3 linked regions of the Homo sapiens genome follow. The protein of the gene in region 3 interacts with the protein of the main gene of each other region in a pairwise test. Each region holds a gene or a part of one and is shown on either strand. Other genes may lie near its edges.

The links.
Region 1: the proteins of GOLGB1 (region 3) and CEP126 interact in a two-hybrid assay, tested with the Homo sapiens proteins (one large-scale study listed by BioGRID and IntAct).
Region 2: the proteins of GOLGB1 (region 3) and SLC2A3 interact in a two-hybrid assay, tested with the Homo sapiens proteins (one large-scale study listed by IntAct).

Annotation. Positions count from the first base shown.
Region 1 is NC_000011.10:101,917,927-101,921,577, forward strand, and holds part of CEP126 (centrosomal protein of 126 kDa), read left to right. Parts: intron 1-3,651. UniProt on the Homo sapiens protein: Participates in cytokinesis. Necessary for microtubules and mitotic spindle organization. Involved in primary cilium formation.
Region 2 is NC_000012.12:7,933,258-7,937,432, reverse strand, and holds the start of SLC2A3 (solute carrier family 2, facilitated glucose transporter member 3), read left to right. Parts: upstream 1-1,245; 5' UTR 1,246-1,398; coding exon 1,399-1,413; intron 1,414-3,530; coding exon 3,531-3,623; intron 3,624-4,175. UniProt on the Homo sapiens protein: Facilitative glucose transporter. Can also mediate the uptake of various other monosaccharides across the cell membrane. Mediates the uptake of glucose, 2-deoxyglucose, galactose, mannose, xylose and fucose, and probably also dehydroascorbate.
Region 3 is NC_000003.12:121,694,238-121,697,888, forward strand, and holds part of GOLGB1 (golgin subfamily B member 1), read right to left. Parts: coding exon 1-3,651. UniProt on the Homo sapiens protein: May participate in forming intercisternal cross-bridges of the Golgi complex.

The sequences.
Region 1 (3,651 bases), on a different chromosome or scaffold from region 3:
AGCTTCACCTAAACAGGAACAGGGTTCTTTCTTTTTCCTATGAATGCCTCTGCCAGGTCTCTGTCACCTTCCATCACACTCGATAGACTGTCTTACCACTTGATAAGACTTGGATGCCCTGACAGGTCTGTTCCAACAAACAGCACAAACACACACACTCCCACCCACCTGTCTTTTTTTCCCCCCAGGCTCACTGATGGGATCTTACTTTTACTATAGAAAGTGAAGTGAACCCATTCAGCTGGGCCCAGTGGCTCACATCTGTAATCCTAGCACTTTGGGAGGCCGAGGTAGGCAGATTGCTTGAGTCCAGGAGTTCGAAACCAGCCTGGGCAACGTGGTGAAACCATATCTCTACAAAAAATACAAAAATTAGCTGTGTGTTGTGGTGCATGCTTGTAGTACCATCTACTTAAGAGGCTGAGGCAGGAAGATTGCTTGAGACTGCGAGGTGGAGGTTGCAGTGAGCCGAGATTATGCCACTGCACTCCAGCCTAGGCAACAGAGTGAGACCCTGTCTATAAATAAATAAATAAATTGTATTTTGCTAATACATACATAATAAAACATAGTTTTGTACCTTGTGTTTCTAAAAGGTACTGCCCCATGCTCATGAGATTTTGAAACTTAGGTACATAATACATTTCTAATGGCATATACTTTTGTATAACCCCCTTAGGAGCCAAGTTTTCTATAATGCACTAAAAGATATAAAAATGCATATGCCTTTTGTCCTCATATCTACCCCAGAGAATTTTCTCCAAGGGAATAATTCAGGAGGTTTTTATTAAATCATTACTATATTCTAAGAACCATGCCAGGCGTGAGAGTTACAGAAATGTAGAGAAGACACTTATCATGTACTCATGAAGGTGTCATCAAGTCATCTAGTGGAGGTTAGAAAAGGCTTCAAGGTAGAACGAACTGCTTGAGATGGCCCTGAAAGGATGAGTAGAGTTAGCCAAGCATGTGCCAAGAGATAATGGTATGATACATCACGGGTTGTTCTGTTTATAATTATCTTAGTGCGTCTGGACATAGGATTCATACAGGGAAATGTTAAGAAATAAAGTTGAAAAAACAAACTATATTATAGAATGGTTTATATATAGGTCCAAGAACTTTGGAATTTTTCATGAAGGTGATAGGGAGCTTTTGGAGAACAACAAAGAGAAACACAATCAGATTTGCATTTAGCTGACTTTGTGTAGGTTCAAATAGAGGTTTAGAGTAAGAAGAATTAGAGGAGCACTGTAGTCGTCCAAGCAAGGGATTTAGAGTACCTGAGTTAAGGGAGAGGAAGAAGGTACAGTAGAGGAAAAATCGAATCAACATAGCTTTAATAGATTTGGGGAAAAAATGGGTTATATAATACATAGTTATTTGTGATGGCAACATTTTAAACAACCTAACTGGATAAAAGACTAAGTTGGGAGAGGAGAAGTGAGGATAGAGTGGGGTAGAATAAGCTATGCTTTAAAATCACATGTTACAATACATATTATTCTTGGTTTTGTTTTTTTAATGTTAAGTATATAAAAATTCCCTTCTTTTGGACAGGTATTTAGCAGTGTTTTTTTTATGGAACTCCTACCTTTACCATACAGCTTGTATAAAAAAACAAAATTTAACCAGCCATCTAATTTTTTTAAACTTGAATACCATATTTGAAATGATACAAAAGCAGCAGGATTCTTTATATTAATAATTAATAATTCAGCAGGAAACATACTATACTATTATACTTATATATAAAGAAAGTAGAAAATCATTTGGTTAAATTGAAGACTATATAGTTGTCAGAACATTACAAACATTACATTTGTGATTTTCTTTATGCTGTCGTGATGAGACTTCAAACATGTCAAACAGAGAACAGAACTGTCTCCTCCTTGCTTCTCACTTAAGCCAAAGCATCTTCCTCCCCTCAACCTCATGTTGGCCCTGTGCACCCTGAAAGGAAGTTGCACTTTTCTTTACTGCCGAGTTGTCACTTTTAATACCTAGACATCTTGTTGAAGTCTGGCTCTTGTTAAAATATTCTATCAGAGAAAAACAGTTTTTCTGTGCTAGCAAAGAACCAAATTTTCTTCCCTTTTGGTTTGATTTTTATAAATCCTTTAAAAGAAATCTTTAAGTAAAAATATGTTTGTGAGTGTGTTTGGGTCTTTGTCTTGAAGTAGTGTAAAATTTTATTTAAAATGAAGGTAAAATGAATTATGGCCTATGGTATAAAGATGGTTAAATAGCAACACAAAAGAAAACAAATAAGCCCCCATCAGCAAAGGTCTAAACAACAAAATGTTCAAATAAACCTGTTATTCTGAAATATGTAATAATAGAGTTTCTTTATAATATTGATGCTGAAGCACTATAGGATCCTGAAATTAACATGTTGAATTAACAAATTATGTACCGCATAGTTTATTATTGAGTGTATTTCTAGTATTCTGTTTTACCATTAATAATCAATTTATGAGATTTTTACAATCTTGATTAAATGCAGCCTTTAAAGAGAATTTTGGACCTCCATCTTAGCGTAAAAAGTTTTTAAACAAGCTGTTTGTTCTAAAAAAGACAAATAGATATGCCCTACAATCTATAACTTCAGTATAATCTCATATATTTCTACATCTAATGATGAGGTACTAAATGTGATTACACGGTAATTCAATGAACTTTTTTTTTTTTTTTTGAGACAGAGTCTCGCTGTGTTGCCCAGGCTGGAGTATAGTGGCGTGTTCTTAGCTCACTGCAGACTCAACCCCCTCCAAGCTCAAGCGATCTTCCCACATCAGCCTCCCAAGTAGCTGGGGCTGCAGGCATACACCACCACACCTGGCTGATTTTTGCATTTTTTGTAGAGCCGGGGTTTCACCATATTGCCCAGGCTCATCTCAAACTCCTGGGCTCAAGCAGTCTGCCCACCTTGGCCTCCCAAATTGTTGGGATTACAGGTGTGAGCCACTGCGCCCAGCCAAATGAACTTCTTTTAATTCAAAATCATTAAAAACAGAAGACTCATGAAAAACAGAAAATTACTCTGACAAATTTGATAAAGATACTTAATAATGTCAATTAAAACGCAACTAAATAAATTGGAGAAATTACTCATATTGCTACAACTTATTTAAGGAGAGTTTAATTTTATAAAATAAATTTCAAGTGAATAGATGATTAGGATAACCAAAATATTCCTCTTTTTCTCTGACAAGCTTCTGGATACACAGATGACTATACATAGTTTTCCTAGTGGTTTTTTATAACCACTAAGTCACTAAGTAAATAACTAAACTGTATTCCTAACCATTCTAGTTATATTGCTATTTGATTGTTTAATATTTGAAAATGTACTTTCCTACTATAGATTAAGGGATCTGGTGAAACATTTACTCCATCTACTTTCTATTAGTAAAATACAATCTTCTTATTTCATTTTCTTATATTCATGACTATGAGGGCAACTTGTTAGTAAGTACTCAAATATCTGTGTAATGAGGCCAAGCACGGTGGCTCACGCCTGTAATCACACCACTATGGGAGGCCGAGGCAGGTGGATCACCTGAGGTTAGGAGTTCGAGACCAGGCTGACCAACATGGTGAAACCCCGTCTCTACTGACAATACAAAAATTGACTAGGTGTGGTGGCAC
Region 2 (4,175 bases), on a different chromosome or scaffold from region 3:
CGCGCCCGGCCTTTTTTTCTATTATTCACTGAAGAATCACCAGCTTCTTGGAGAGTACCTGATACATAGCGTGTATTCGGCAAATACCTGCTTAATTGAATTCGGTATTTATTGCATTTCTAGATGCTATAAGCTTGAGACTAGCAGAAAGTGATGCAGAATTCAGAATGGGTGATATGGCAAATGCCTTATTAAATATAGGGCTCGGCGCGGTGGCTCACACTTGTAATCCCAGCACTTTGGGAGGCCAAGGCGGGCAGATCACAAGGTCAGGAGTTTGAGACCAGCCTGGCCAATATGGTGAAACCCCGTCTTTACTAAAAATACAAAAATTAGCGGGGCGTGGTGGCGGGCGCCTATAGTCCCAGCTACTCGGGAGGCTGAGGCAGGAGAATTGCTTGAACCCGGGAGGCGGAGGTTGCAGTGAGCCGAGATCGCACCACTGCACTCCAGCCTGGGCGACAGAGAGAGACTCCATATCAAAAAAAAAAAAAAAAAAAAAAAAAGGATATGGATTGTATTCCATAAACAGTTGAACCTCTTATTCCTACTGCCCTGATAGTTGGTCTGGCTCCTAGAAATTCAGATTTTCTTCCCTCCAGGTGAGATTATGCGAAGAAAGGAACACTGGCAAAATTATTTCCCTGATTTTCTTCTCTCAGGCTGTCTTTCCCTCCCCTTTAAGATTGTGTACTCCGTCTCAAAAAAAAAAGAAAAAAAAAAGATTGTAGACCCAGCCTATAAATTCATAGGATCAAGAATTCTTACTAACACTCTTTCTAACAACCTTAAATCTCTGATAGTAGCACCCACTTGACTTCGTTTTGTATGGATAGATTTATTCTAATCTCTCTGTAGATTGTTTTAATCCCAAGCAGATGCGAGAGCATAAAATAGTGTATTTGCCCTCCCTCCAGGCTTTTCTGGTAGTATTTTGTCTGTGAAACTAAGAGGCTCTAGCTGCTATTAGAAGAGGGAAGGAGTAAGGATGAGCTTTTGAAAAAAAAAAAAAAAAAAAAACCCAGGGTGGAGAGAGTGGAAGGATGTGGTTTTAAGAGAGGGGGGAGGGAGGGCGTTATTGTCTGTGGGGCGGGGGCGGGGGTAGTTCTGATAACACAGAATTCCGAGAGATCACAAGATTGCTTCAGGGGGGTGGGGTGGGGTGGGGTGGGGCTGGGGGCTTGTCGCCCTTTCAGGCTCCACCCTTTGCGGAGATTATAAATAGTCATGATCCCAGCGAGACCCAGAGATGCTGTAATGGTAAGACTTTGGATCCTTCCTGAGGACGTGGAGAAAACTTGCTGCTGAGAAGGACATTTTGAAGGTTTTGTTGGCTGAAAAAGCTGTTTCTGGAATCACCCCTAGATCTTTCTTGAAGACTTGAATTAGATTACAGCGATGGGGACACAGAAGGTAAGAATGATATAATTACTGGTTATTTTTGCTTGTTTGGGATACACTCAGAAAGGCAAATATTAATGGTAATCTCCTTGTTCTATTTTCTCCTAAGTCACCAAGCTATCTTAAGGCCTTTTCATTTCGTCTCTAGCCTGCACTGCTGCCGCTTCATCAGTTCTCTTTGAATGTCATACAGTTCTGTTCACCTTATCATAGGAAAGTCACCCGGAGAAGTTGTGTTTGCTTCTCAGGTTTATTTTAGGTAACCATATGCCACTGAGGACGAGATGGTTGAGTGTTTAGAGGATCGGGCTGCTTGGTTGTATGGATTACAAGTGTGGGTCTCAGAGCCAGTGTGAAGACTTCTCTGGAAGCATTAGACCTTGAAAAGGTCTGTGTTTGGAGGCACAGGCCAGGGTCTGGCCATCTGTTTGTCCTATAACATATGGGGTTCGTGGATGCTAAGGAGAAAGAATTCCAGTTGTCCTTCCTATTAGGGTTAAAATCGTGAGTGCAGGACATACTAAAATATTGAGTGTTGTATATGCATTATTTGCAGGGAGAAAGGCTTTTCTTTTTTTTCTGATTGAGTTTTACTCTTGTTGCCCAGGCTGGAGTGCAATGGAGCGACCGCAGCTCACCACAGCCTCCGCCTCCCGGGTTCAAGCGATTCTCCTGCCTCAGCCTCCTGAGTAGCTGAGATTACAGGCATGAACCACCGGGCCCGGCTAATTTTGTATTTTTAGTAGAGACGGGGTTTCTCTATGTTGGTCAGGCTGGTCTCGACTCCCGACCTCAGGCGATCCGCCGGCCTCGGCCTCCCAAGGTGCTGAGATTACAGGCATGAGCCACTGCGCGCAGCAAGAAAGGCATTTTTTACCAAGATAAATTTAACTAAAAATAAGGGGCCAGGTGTGGTGGGTCACACCTATAACCCCAGCATTTGGGAAACCAAGGCAGGAGGATCACATGAGGCCTGGAGTTTGAGACTAGCCTTGGGCAATATAGTGAGATCCCATCTCTACAAAGCAGAAAGAAAGAAAATGTAGGAAAATAAGAAAGGGATGGAAAATTATGAGACTAAAGAAGAAAAGGCTCTCAAAGATAGTGAATGATGAGAGGAGACAGAAGAGATTTTTACTAAACGGAAAAAGATTTAACAGAGCATTGCACTGGCAGGGCCCTCCGGGGTACCGATGCTTAGCTGGGACTGAGACATCTGGGAGGCTGCAGGCAAGGTCACTTCTCCTGCTGAAGCTCCCAGCCTGCTGCCTAATCTGCCCGACCTGAAAGGAAAGGAGTTTAAGATATGAAAGGTTGAAGGGATTTTGGGTGGTGGGGTGGGGGGGAATGGCGTAGAAGTTGGCCTCAGGTATAAAAATTGAGCTGCCCCAAGGTAGAAATGGAAAATGTCTCGCCCGGCTGAATTATTCCAGGCAAGGTGAAGATGACCGGTTCTCCCCACTAAGAAATGTCTCTTATATGTTGGGTTCGCCCTTATATGTTGGGTTCAGAGTAAGTACTTTCTTCCCCTGCGCGGGAGTTAGGGATAGCAGAACTGTATTTAATAAACGAAGACTGAAATGGGGCCAGGATGCAGTGAGTAGATCCAGTAGGTTACATGGTCCTGAGAGATAAGAGACTCAAAGAGCCACCCAGCAGTGAAGACACAAACTACCACCCCCTCCACCACCACCAGTGGGCTTCCGTGGAGTCTGGGGTACAGATCAGACTGCACTGTATTTGTTTCCAGAATGGTCAATTCTTAGTAATCCTACCCGAGACTGTCTTTTTCTCTGCCCTCCCAGTTCGTGAGTGGAATTCTATGCCTACATTTGCCTGATGCAAGTTTTTAAATATTTCCAAACTGACCAACCCAGTTTCTCTTAACTTCTTCCTTCCCCAATTTTCTTTCATTTTTACCAAGTTAACTTCACATTCTTATCTCCAGATAAGTTCTTTAGTATAATCTATTCCTTTGTCTTCCCCATTAATTACCTAAATCTCATTGGATGTTCTTTTCATACCACTCATAACTCAAATTCTCCTAATACAGCTCCATAATTAATAAGAAACAGTCATCAATCACAAGTTTTAAGGACTATTCTCTCCTCTGTCTTCCCTCCCTCCAGGTCACCCCAGCTCTGATATTTGCCATCACAGTTGCTACAATCGGCTCTTTCCAATTTGGCTACAACACTGGGGTCATCAATGCTCCTGAGAAGGTGAGTGCCAGGCCACAATAATTAGAATTTAGAATAGGGAAGTTATTCCTTTAAGTAGGGTTTCAGGAATTCAGAATTTAAGGCCAGGCATGGTGGCATCTGCCTGGAGTCCCAGCTACTCCTGAGGCTGAGGCTTAAAGATCACTTGAGTCCAGGAGTTAAACACCATCCTGAGCAACACAGTTAGTGAGGGTCCCTCCCCAAACTAGGGGATTTTAAGACAAACTTTGTATCTATCCTGTCCAAGACTGAAGATGGAGACAATATTGGTGGGGAAAATTAGTGGGGTCATCTAATCGAAGCACAAAGCTCACTTACTCCCGGAACGCTGGGCGGTGCTGTTCTTCCTCCCACTCTTTCACCTCATAGTGATGCACATCCTGTATTATCCCTTAGGGGTTAGTTACAAAGAAGCTGGGTTCCCTTAGCAGAGGGCTGGGGTAGACTGTGAACATCGGTGCTGCCACCTACTGGGATTTTCAGGACAAATAGAATTACTATTCCAGCGAGAGTTAACATAAATTCCAATACGTTATCTGCCCCTTCCATTCC
Region 3 (3,651 bases):
TTCACTTTGAGTGTCATCTAGCAGGACTTTGAAGCTAGCTAATTCTGCTTGTGCCTTTTTGCGGTGTTCAACTGCTTGAGCCAGATTTTCTTTGGTTATTTCCAAATCTTTTTGAGATTCAGTTTGAACAAATTCTAGAGCTTTAACAGTTCTCTCCAGAGCACTAATTTTCTCTTGATACCTGATGCAGTCCTTCTGTAGCTGCTTTACTTCTTGTTGTTTTTCTTTTAACAGTTCCTGAAGTTCCTTTGCATGGCTTTTATTTCCGGGTTCTTTCTGAGCACCTTGTATTTTCTCCAAATATTCCTTTCGTATTTCTGATTCCACCTTAGTTTTTTCCTTGACTAACTGCTGCTTTTCTTCTTCCAATTCACTCACACACTTTTTAAGGTTCTTCATTTCAGATTCCAATAGCTCATTTTTTATTTGGGCATCTGTAACATCCTGACAGTAATTCCCAATGCTTCCATTAAGTTCTGCTAATTGATTCATAAGCCTCTCTTCCAAATCATCTTTCTCTTCTTCTGCTGTCTCCTTTAGTTTGGTAACTCTGGAGAGTTCTTCTTGGATTTGCTGATTTAACAGGTTCATTTTGGTTACTTCCTCCTGAAGCATTTTTAGTTCACCATCCTTTGTTGATATCTGACTCAGTAAGGTATTTTTCTCATTTTCTAAAGTCTGGCTAAATTCCTTGTTTTTCTGCTTCTCCTCCTCTAATCCAGCAATTCTTTCTTTGAGCTGATCAATCTGCTGTAGGTAGTTATTAATTTCATCATGTGAGCTGAAATCCTTACTTACAGCAGGGTTGGCACTCTTCGCTGATGGAACCGATTCTGAACATGTAGGTCTTGTGCTCATACTCAGAGAGTCTTGCTCTTCAGTCTCACCTGGTATAGACTGTGTTCCCTCTTCAGTGACATTCGTTTGGTTATCATGTTTCTCGGTGGCCTCTAGGTTAGCTTGTTTAGATACATTACCTTCTATCTGATGCTTTAAATCTTGAACCTCTTCACTTAGAGAGTCTTTCTCAGACATTAAAGACTGAAACTTCTTAGAAAGGGTTTCATACTCCATTTTGACCCTTTCAAGTTCTTCCTTCATGCTGGCATTGGAAGAAAGAAGTGTTTCCATACACTCTTTAGCTGTATCTCCTGCAGGGTGCACCTCTGCCCTAAGCCGGTCATTCTCTTCTTCCAGCTCTAGGATTTTCTGCTGTTTAGATTTAGCAAACTTTCTCATCTTTTCTTTCATTTCCTCCATTTCTTGCTCAGCTTCCTGCAACTGCTTTTCTGTCTCCTTCTTGTTTGCCTCTGTGCTTCTTAACTTGCCATACAGTTCTTGTTTCTCTTGCCTCACAGCTTCCACCACATGCTGAATCCTTTCTGCTTCATTACTAACATTCTCATAGGACTGCAGAAGAATTTCATACTCTTTTTGTAGCTCCTTGTGTTTCTCTTGCCACTCAGTACTTTCTGCAATCTTAGAAGATTTCAAAGATTCAATTTCCTTCACTAACTTTTCCTTGTCTTCAGTAAGACCCTCTAGAGCTAGTTTTAGACTTTCACAGGAGCTGCTGAGACTCTGATTTTCCAATAAAGACCTGTCCATTTCTGTAATGAGTTTGTCTCTTTCTTCTTGAAGAAGAGCTAACCTTCCTAAGACCGTATCTTTTTCTTTATTTTGAGCAGAAACTTGGCTTTCCACATCTGCCAGAGACTTGGTGAGACGTTCAATGGTACCTCTGGCCAAAGACAATTCCTCTTGGAGACTTTTGTTTTCTTTTAGTGCTTCTTTTCGGGAAATAAGGGCAGCTTGCAGTTTCCTTTGTATTTGTTGCTTTGCTCTACTTTCTTCTCCAATCTCTTCTGGTTTTTGCTTCATTTCACAAAGTTCCACCTGTAGCTGCTTTATCCTCTCATCATGCTCTTTGGCTTGCATTTCTAGCTGTGTATGCAGAGCCTTAATTAAATCTTCTTGTTCTATTATCTCTGTCTGTATTTTAGTGAGAGCTGCTTCTTTCTCACTAAGTTGTCCAGAAAGGTAGCTAACGTCTTCTTCCTTTTTGCTTATGAGTTTTTGCAGTTCATCCAGTTTAGGTTGCAATTCTCTTAGATGTTCTAGGCCAGCAATTTGTAGTTGGCTGCTTTCCAATTTCTGCTGCAGGCTTTCGGCATGGACTTCAGCTTCATGGGATACTGTCTTTAGACTCTCGATTTCTAAACCCTGTTTATTTATCTGCTCTTGTAACTGAAATACCTCTTCTGATTTTTTAGTAAGCTCACTTGTTGTAGAACTAACTTTCAATTCTAACTCTACTTTCTCAGCCTCTATTTCCTTCAGCTGGGCCTTAATCTGGGCAACAGAAGTTCCGCCCTGCAGAGCACTCGCATCTTCAGAATGAGAAGGCCAGTCTGGGCACAAGTTGGACTCTAAAACAGGTTGAGTGTGATGCTGTTCTGTGGCTTTGAATAAAGGTTCTTCTAAACCTGGAGTGGAAGAACACGATTCCTGCTGGTCTGTGCTTGGGAGTTTTCCGTCTATGGATTCCCTTACTTGAATCTGGAGTTGCCTTAGCTGGTCTCCAATATTCTCATTTTCCTTGCTTTGCTCATCAAACTGTTCTTGCAAGCGATTATAGTCATCTTTCTGTTGCTTTAGCTCCTCCCTGAGATGTCTTTCTTTCTCCTGTGCCTTTTTAAGAATTGCCTTGCGGGAGGTTAAGGCTTCCTGTAGCTTCTTTTGAAGTTGCTCCTTTTCTTTTTCAAGGGCCAGTATCTTTTCTTCTAGTTCTGGTTTCCAGTGTTCACTACTACCTGTACAAGGTGGACTTATCACCACTGTTTCCTTTACAAGTGCTACGGAGTCCCCATCACTTGCATCCGTGTTACTTGTGATTAACTTCTGGATAATTGCTTGGTTTTCACTGATTTCTGCTTGGAGCAAATCTATTTGGTTTGTTTTATCTTGCAAGGTCTGATTCATCTGTTTGACCAGAGCCTGGAATTGCTCTTCAGCTGCCAGCTTTTCTTCCAAATCCTTCCTTATATGCTGTAGTTCCACTTCTTTCTCAGATATTGTCTGTTTTAAATAAATTTCTATTTCTTGGCACTTAGAAGTCACACATTTTTCTGAGTATTCTTTGTTTTCTTTATCTTCTTCCACTTCTCCCCTCTCAGTCTCACTGAGTGGGATTTCTTTCTTAGATTCATCTTTCAAGTTGGCTAATTCTTCTTCCAATCTACTGACTCTTTGCAGAAGCTCCTTTCTGTTAATAAGAGCTGCCTGGAGCTTTCTCTTTCTCTGCTCATTTTCTTTCTTCAGAAGGTCAAATTCATGCTGAAGTTCTTCCTTACTTATTTGTCCTGCTGGGCTCATCTCATCATAATTTTGTTTAAGGCCAGAAGAAACTTCATTATCTTCTTCCACCTGCTCTTTTTTTGCTTCCTCAGCTCTGGATAATAAATTTAGCTGTTCTTTAAGAGTCTTAATTTCAACCCCAAGAGAAAACTTCTCTTCATTAAGCTGAACCATTTTCTCAGTCATACTAAAGCTGATTTCTGTCACTTGTTGATCCTTCTCCTCGATGGTTTGTTGGAGGGTTTCCACATCTCTCTTTTTCTCTAGTAAGAGCTGATCCATTTTTGTTATTTC